Linked DNA regions of Homo sapiens. The protein of the gene in region 2 interacts with the protein of the main gene of each other region in a pairwise test. Each region holds a gene or a part of one and is shown on either strand. Other genes may lie near its edges.

Region 1 (4,596 bases), on a different chromosome or scaffold from region 2:
GCATCCTCCTGATGCCTCTTAAAAGAGAAAGACTCTTGATTTCAGGAAGCGTACCATCTTGGTACCTTATGTGGTATCAAAAATAGTAGGCTTTTTAGCTGGGTCATAGATGGCCTTCCTTATGGCTCTACGCTATACCTTTTAGCAAATAGAAATGTTGGTATTCACTCTGTGTATTTAATTTCTCCTGGACACATTAAAAAATACATAAGTAAATATACCTTCGAACCAAAATGGAAAGCACGAGGCAACCCTGGACACCTCACTGCTATTTAACTTAACCCTCCCTAGGCAGATCATATGAGTCCGATTGTAAAAGTATTAATGTGGACATCTTTCCACTCTGGATCAAGTCCATTTCAGGTTATCAGGGATGGTTAAGCTCCTAGCTATTCTAGCAGATTTCTTATGTCTTAATGCATGAAATTAATAATAGTTCCTGGGATATTCCACACTTATCTATTACATGTTTCCACATATTTAAAATACAGAAGGAAAACATGAACACCAATAAAGAAACTATGAGTAACAGAAATCCAGAACACAGTGAAGAAAGAAAGAAAAAAATATATACTGCTGCAGTCAGCTTTTAGGAAAACTGTTTCCATCATTCTGAAAATTTATATTTATTAGAAATAAATCTAATTTTGGCAGCACATCATGGTTAGGAGCCAGGGAAATTGTCATTGGGACCTTAGTATTGTATTTCACAAGAAAGAGAGCTCTGTGAGGAAGCCTGGGCTATCTGCAAACCTTCGACTCGGAAATCCCTGCATAATAAGAAAGGTATTGGCTAAATTTGAGCAGCTCACGCAGTATCTAGAGGAAACATTATGAAGTGGGATAGTGTGGTGTCTGAGATGCAGTTATAGGTATACAGACATGACTCAAGGCGTGGATTAGGAAGGCCAACTTTGGAGGGGAGGGCTGGCTCGCTCATTTCTCTTCTCCCTGTCAAATGCTGAAAGGCTGGTTCCAGCCTTTGAGCTCCTGCACTTTGAGAGTTTTCAGCTGGGTTCTCAGGCTGCGTTCACCCGTCGACTTGCTCCAGGCCAAACCAGATTTTGAAAAGGAAGGCAACTTCTTTTTCGCGGCAAACCCTTAAACCCACGCACCTTCTCAAAACTCTGCCCTTCTCAACCCCTGCGCTAGAGTAGGCAGGGCAGAAGGTGCTGAGGAGAGGCTCAGAAGGGGCGGTGGGGACGATCCCCTTTCGAACTGCATTTGTAGCTGCCAAGGAGTAGCCAACAAGCACCAGATTTATGTGCACTTTGAAAGAAGCACCTTCACCATTGGCTTTTTAAGCGGCGCTGTCGCTAGGGAGCGGCTGGTAGGGCGAGCAGCCTCGGGGAGCAGCCCGGGCTGTTTGTTCCGTCACCGGGGAAAGGAGGTACACACAGTCGCGCGCGCACGGACACACACACACACGCACGCACGCACACACACCGGTGGCGAGTTCGAGCCCCGCGGCCCCTGTCCGCCCGCGTGCGCCCCTCGACACAGCTCGCCTCCCGCCCCCTGATTCCTGCTGCTGCCGCCCAGAGGAGAAAGGAACCTCTGCCTCGAATTTCCCCACTGCGCCGGGCGCTGCGGAGAGCGGCGAGGGTGGGCGCGAGGCGGAGAACGCGATGAATGAGTTCTCCCCTCGCCTCGGAGTTGTCTGAGTTGGCGGCGCTGCGCCCAGGCTTCCGGCTCTCAGCGCCCCACGCGCGCGTGGCTCCCCGGGCTGCCACCCACGCCCGCGGCCGGGGCCGAGCCAGCCACGCAGGGCAGCCGAGGCTCCGGAGCTCCTGTCCCGGCCCCAGTCCGGGTAAAAGGAGGGTTGTCCCCAGCGGAGGCGCACAGCCGCGCGTTCTCCCTGCACTCTCTTCGCGGTCCCATCTGTTCCCCATGGCGTCTCATCCGCAAACCCGGATCCAGGCTTACCTGGAGAAGAACAAGATCGGTCCCCTGTTTGAGGTAAGGCGCTGTGGAGGAGGGCAGTCCCGTTGTCTTTAGGGGAAGGGGTGCAGTAATGAAAACAGAACACTCCCAATCCCACCCCTCCCAGGGAAGGAGGGCTAGAGAACCAACGCGCGGGAGAGGGCGCCCTGGGATTCACTGGCATTCGCTCTGTCCCGGCCAGGTGTCCTGGAACGCGGCCGGGCGGGCACTTAGCCAGTTACCTGAACGCGGACAGGTGAGCTCGGGAGGGCCCAGCCTCAGCCTGGCAGGGGAAGTTTTGGCCCTCTGACTGTCCTGCACCTCTCAGCTACATGTTCAGGACCCGGGCAGGCTGAGGCAGGCGACGCATACGGATGCACACACTCAGACTGTGTTGCACACGCACACTTTCTTTTTTGAATTCACGCTATCTTGAGTGTTCGTGTTGGATTTTCTTTTTTCTTTTCTTTTCTTTCCTTCTTTTTTTTTTTTTTTTTTTTTTTTTTTTTAATGAGGGCGGTAATAGAACCCGAAAAGGTGGAGGAGGTGCTTAGCAGTTAATACAATTAACTGGAAGACAGCTGAACTGGTGAGGAGTAGGCTTCAGTCGGTGCGGGCGTGATGAATGAAATTGGCAAACTGAGAGACTGCCATTTGGTCACTGGACGAAAGGAGAGTCCTTTGCACTGCAGACCCCACATGTGTTAGCAGGAGAAAGGGACGGAGAAAGGTTCTGAAAAGCACACACGTATTTGTGGAAGAAGACTATAGCTCTGAGCTGGTTTTGTTTTTTTTTCTCTCTCTCGCCATTAAAGAATTTAAGACAAAAATACAGTAGAAGGAAGAGCGCGAGGACACGAGAAAATGAGAACAAGAGATTGAAGCCTGGCACCAGCAAAGCGTCCCGCGGGTTGCCAGGGTGCTGAGCAGGGGTGGGGCGTGCGGACCGTAGTCAGAAGTGGAGGCCCTTGCGGAGGGACTCCCTTGGTCCCATCCAGTTCAGGGGGCACTGACCGGCGGCGAGAGTTCGCGGGAGGGTCGAGGTGCTCCCGCCTTGCCCCCGCCTTGCCCCCGCCTTGCCCCCGCCCCCCACGTCTCCCAGAAGCAGTTGTAGCTGTTCTTAACAGCTTGGTTTGGGGTGAGGGCTTGGTATGGGGAGGAGGTTACGTGTCAGTGTCTGAGAGAGGCAGAATCGCGGCAAGTGGAAGGGGCTGCACTGGAGATCGCGGAAAACCTAGCAAAGACTGAAGAGAAGCAAGTGAGAACTGTGGAGAACAAAAAAATAATGCGAGTTAATGACCCTGCAAAAAAAGGGCGCGGAGGACAAAGGTGTGGTCCAATAGGTCTTTTGGGAGGACGGGTTTCACATAACAAGATTTGCAAGATCTCCTAAGTTTTTTTGCCCAACTTTAACGTTGATCTGTCTTAGACGATAAGACCATTGTTTCAATTGAAGCTCGCATTGTGGGGTGCAGAGTCCTACAATTGCTTTGATTCTTTTTTCTGCCAAAAATGTTAACAAAGGCAATCCATGCAAGAGCGAAATAAAATTGATGGAACTACCAGATTTCTTTTCTTTGCCTTTAGTTTAATGATTATTGATTATACATAATCCTATATAATTTTTTTAAAGGCAGAAGCCTAAAACCTTCTGCAACGCAGTGTATTAATTGCATCGAAAGAATCATAAAATACATACATTTAGAGTGTGTGTTTTCTCTCTACTCTCCTGGAGTATAAAGTACAATTAGCCTGGGAGAATAAATGAATTGTTTTTAATAAATACTGTTTTAATTTGTTATCTTAAAATCCCCAAGATTTTAATAATAATAAAATTAGGAATATATGTAAACTTTCTGCAGAATTAGAAAATAAACTCAAATGGATATTTATGAAGTGCCCCCTAACCCCCACCTTTTGATGCTCACCAGCAAGTTATGCGCTGAAGAATTTTAAGTGATAGCAACGTGTCTCATAAAAGCTTTAGGTCCCCTCACCAAAAAACAAGCACCACCATGCTTCGTATTTTATTGAATACATATGACATACACTGGCATTAGCTTAGATTGCAGTGATGAGTAGTGCATTTTTTAAGGTTTGATGTCCACTTTAAATAATTGAAGGGAGAAAAATGGATAATAAATTCTCTTTTAATAAAAGCTGGATGTAACACAGTTCCTTATGCAACAATTTTGATCATGATAGAGCTTGACTTTGAGAGTACAATTATACGTATTTCACAAAATTGGAAGATTTTACTAGCGTGTAGCCTACTTGTTTCATGTTAGAAAACCAGTGCCACCTGTGAAATGGACATTGTTGACCTAGAGACCGTCCATTCTCTTCTAGGACCTTACTCAATAGTTTTCACAGGAATTGATTTGGGTCAGAGGAGGTGCCCAGCAATCTGAACATATTTAGAAGCAGCACAAATGTTTGCTACAATTTTAATTTCTGGGCCACATTTTGAGAAACTGAGCTAAAATCTCCTTTTACCACTCACAAATTGAAATTGGCCGCTTCATGTCTTGTCATCTATGCTTTGTTGTGTTGAGTCAGTGTAGCTGACACAGGCTTCTTTCAGTTTGGAAAATATGCGGTATCTGATAATATGTCCCCCTTGTGGATAGTTTAAGTTAGGAATGTTTTAAGAAAACTTAATTGGTATGAGAT
Region 2 (3,102 bases):
TAATCATACGCCTAAATCACCTGGCACACAACCTGGGACTTAGTATTTAACAAAAATCATGATTTTAAACTAAAATAACAGTAAGACATGTAACCCCAGATTGCAAAAAGTATATACTATTTTAGCCTTTCAAATTATCTAGATGGACTGGGAATCGCTCCCAGAGGATATCTGTATATACACGCTGAGAAGTGCCTTCTCTCCAGAAATACTGTTCACTTAGATTATGGGGTGGTAAGGATAACACCGGGGCATTGACATAGAGCCCCAGGTGACAGTTCAAGTCCAGTTCCCTGATAGCAGTGGGGCCCTGGATAAGGCATGCCACCTTTTGGAGTCTGTTTCCTTGTTTGAAAAACAAGGCAAGGCCAAAACTATCTTTGCTTTCTACCTTAAGGATTTACTTAAAGAAGCCATTTACAAACAAACAGTCAAGCCCTCTACCACTGAAAAGGGTTTCATGGCAAACAGCTCCCAGGATTCTGCACCTGGATGGACCTCCACTTTTCATCTTTGCTAGGATGTCACATCAGTGACACATTCTTAGCTGTTTATAAGACGCTATTTAGATTTTCTTTGAATTTAAGGTTCTGTTGTTAATTCTCTGTGAAGCTGACTGATTTGATATGATTTTAAAGGGTAAAGTTGAAGGTGCTTTGACAACTGTGCTCTCTTAGCATGAAGGACGGGATCATAAAGGTGAAGCAACACTGAAACTAAACTATTGGAGCTCCGATTTATGACTTCGTTACGCCAACATAGATCCAACTACTCTCAAGAGTGAAAAAAAGAAATGAGGAAAAGCAACAAGGGAAAACAATATGTTTATTAAGAGCCATGAAAATGCATAAACTCATTTGTAAATAAATGTAGTATAATTTACCCAGTGAAAAAATAGCTAAAATCCATGAGTAAACTGGATTTTATATTTGAAATGATTTTACATATTTGATCTCCAGTGATTTCCCCTCCATCATGATCTACTCCATCAATGACTATAGAAAAAGTTGTTACCAACAATCATCATACCGGGGAAGTTTTTCAAGATGCTCTTTCAAACAGAAGCAGTGCAAACAAGTTCAGATGGCAAGGGATACGATAAGACCTGGAGCTTATCTTCGGACACGTAAAAAATAAAAATCCCAAACATGTATTCCTTAAGAAATGAAAAAGCAGAACAACATTTTGATCAGTGAAAAATATTATAAGGATATATAAAACATTCTTAACCAGTGATCGCAATAATTACATTTATAAATGTTCATTCAAGTACTATTGTTCAATAAACATTCAAATTCTCATTAAAAGTAACACTAGATGTAGACACACCTGGACAACGCTTCTTTTGATTTAGCAACAATTGTGTCAACAGGAGGCAAGTGACCCTTAAAATACTGTTGTTGGCTCTGTTTTATTCTGTTTGTGAATGATTTGTTCACAGTCTGTATGTTTTTTTCTGCAAGGACCCGAGAAATATCTCACAACAGCTAATTAAGAAATCATTTCTATAAAATAACTCTCAATATTACAGAAACAGATATTCTAAAACACAAGTGTAGCTCAAAAAATAATTGGGCAGAATCAATTTTCTTTGGCAAGAAATTGCTAATTCCTCACCAAATGTTGGTTTGCTGTTGTGCAGACACTATCAGAAACTTCTTTGGTGTTTACCAAAGAGCTACTTAATAAGCTGAAAAGATTTCATAAGCTATGTTGTCACAATCGCAATGTAGAGCTTATGTCAAAGTTGTGCTGAAATCAACGTCATTTGCTGAATTACTGTTGTTAATAAGTCTTCCTTCAAAAAGCTCCCTCCTAATTCTGGCCTGAGTCTCAGGCTTTAATAAAAGTTCCTTTATCTGTTTCACTTTGGACTTCAGACCCATCGTTTCTCGATGCAAAGCTTCATTAATTAAGTCTCGAATTCCAATAGGTTTCTTGCCTAAGAAAAAAAAATTATATAATAACATTTCATTAAATATGGCATACTGACTTATCAAAATAGGATTTTAAAAAAACTTTAAAATGTTGCCCACATTTTATAGAAAAGGTTGCATTTCACCAAAAATATATCATTTACATGAAACATAATTTACTATAAATAAAGATCACACTGCATAGCAACAGCACACTTAGGACAAACATGAAACATTATGGACTAATTGTACAGATGACAATTCCAACAGTGATTATTTTAAACTTAGCACTTGATAGCTGTGTGTGAGAGTTCTGGCCTCAGATAAAGTAGTCAAATGCCCTGCTAAGCAATATAAATGGCAGTATTCCATTGATGGCAAGGCCTCTTTCTCGGCCTTTAATTTGCGTCCAGGAGGCATAACCCAAAGTTCCCTTTCCCTTGTGCGTGGCTGAGGGCGAATGAAACTTGGGCCATTCTTCTTTCATCAATTAATTTCCTCTGCCAGTCCCAGCACTCCATTTTTCTTCTGTTGTGTTTCAGCAATGCGAACACATCGATCATGAAAAGTATTAGGCAATCTTCACAGATTGCACCAGAGAAACTTAACTTAAACAGCACGCTGCAAGTCAGTCCCTAGACTCAGCAGAGGGAAGCAGGGAGGCTTTGCACAGAGACATGGGGGCCTGCGTTCCGGGCTCATTTCCTGTTGTTCTCATTGTCATTGCCATTCTGATCAGCTGCTTCGGTTTTCACAGAGCTCCCCTCCCCCGGCTTGTTTTTATTCTGTGTTTCCTCCAGATACTGCTGGACAGCCTTGAGCACCGCGTTCTCCACCAGCCTCTTACTGAGCCTTACTAGTTCAGCGTCATCGGGCTCCCCTCCGTTCTTTTCACCTACATTCCACAATAGAGAAGAGAGGTCACTGAGATCACATTGCCATAGAAACTTGGCATGCAGGGGCCGGCTAGTTCCATTGGTTAAAAAGAGCAAGTGTAAATTGGATCTATAAATTCAAGAACAGTGGGTTGGCTTTTCATTTGGTATTTGCAGAAGCAGGAGCCTGTCTATTCCTGAAGGCTTCAGATTGAAAAGTAGTTCATTAGTCCCAATCTAGACAAGCTCTACCTACCAATGCCGGATGTTTCCCATTTATATGTGAATTTCTGTTCTTCTCTCATCCAAGG

The links.
Region 1: the proteins of AKAP7 (region 2) and C8orf34 interact in a two-hybrid assay, tested with the Homo sapiens proteins (one large-scale study listed by BioGRID).

Annotation. Positions count from the first base shown.
Region 1 is NC_000008.11:68,329,381-68,333,976, forward strand, and holds the start of C8orf34 (uncharacterized protein C8orf34), read left to right. Parts: upstream 1-1,574; 5' UTR 1,575-1,632; coding exon 1,633-1,959; exon of another isoform or gene 1,960-2,111; intron 2,112-4,596.
Region 2 is NC_000006.12:131,281,239-131,284,340, reverse strand, and holds the end of AKAP7 (A-kinase anchoring protein 7), read right to left. Parts: intron 2,812-3,102; coding exon 2,615-2,811; 3' UTR 1,943-2,614; coding exon of another isoform or gene 1,737-1,942; 3' UTR 1,157-1,736; coding exon of another isoform or gene 1,113-1,156; 3' UTR 809-1,112; downstream 1-808. UniProt on the Homo sapiens protein: Probably targets cAMP-dependent protein kinase (PKA) to the cellular membrane or cytoskeletal structures.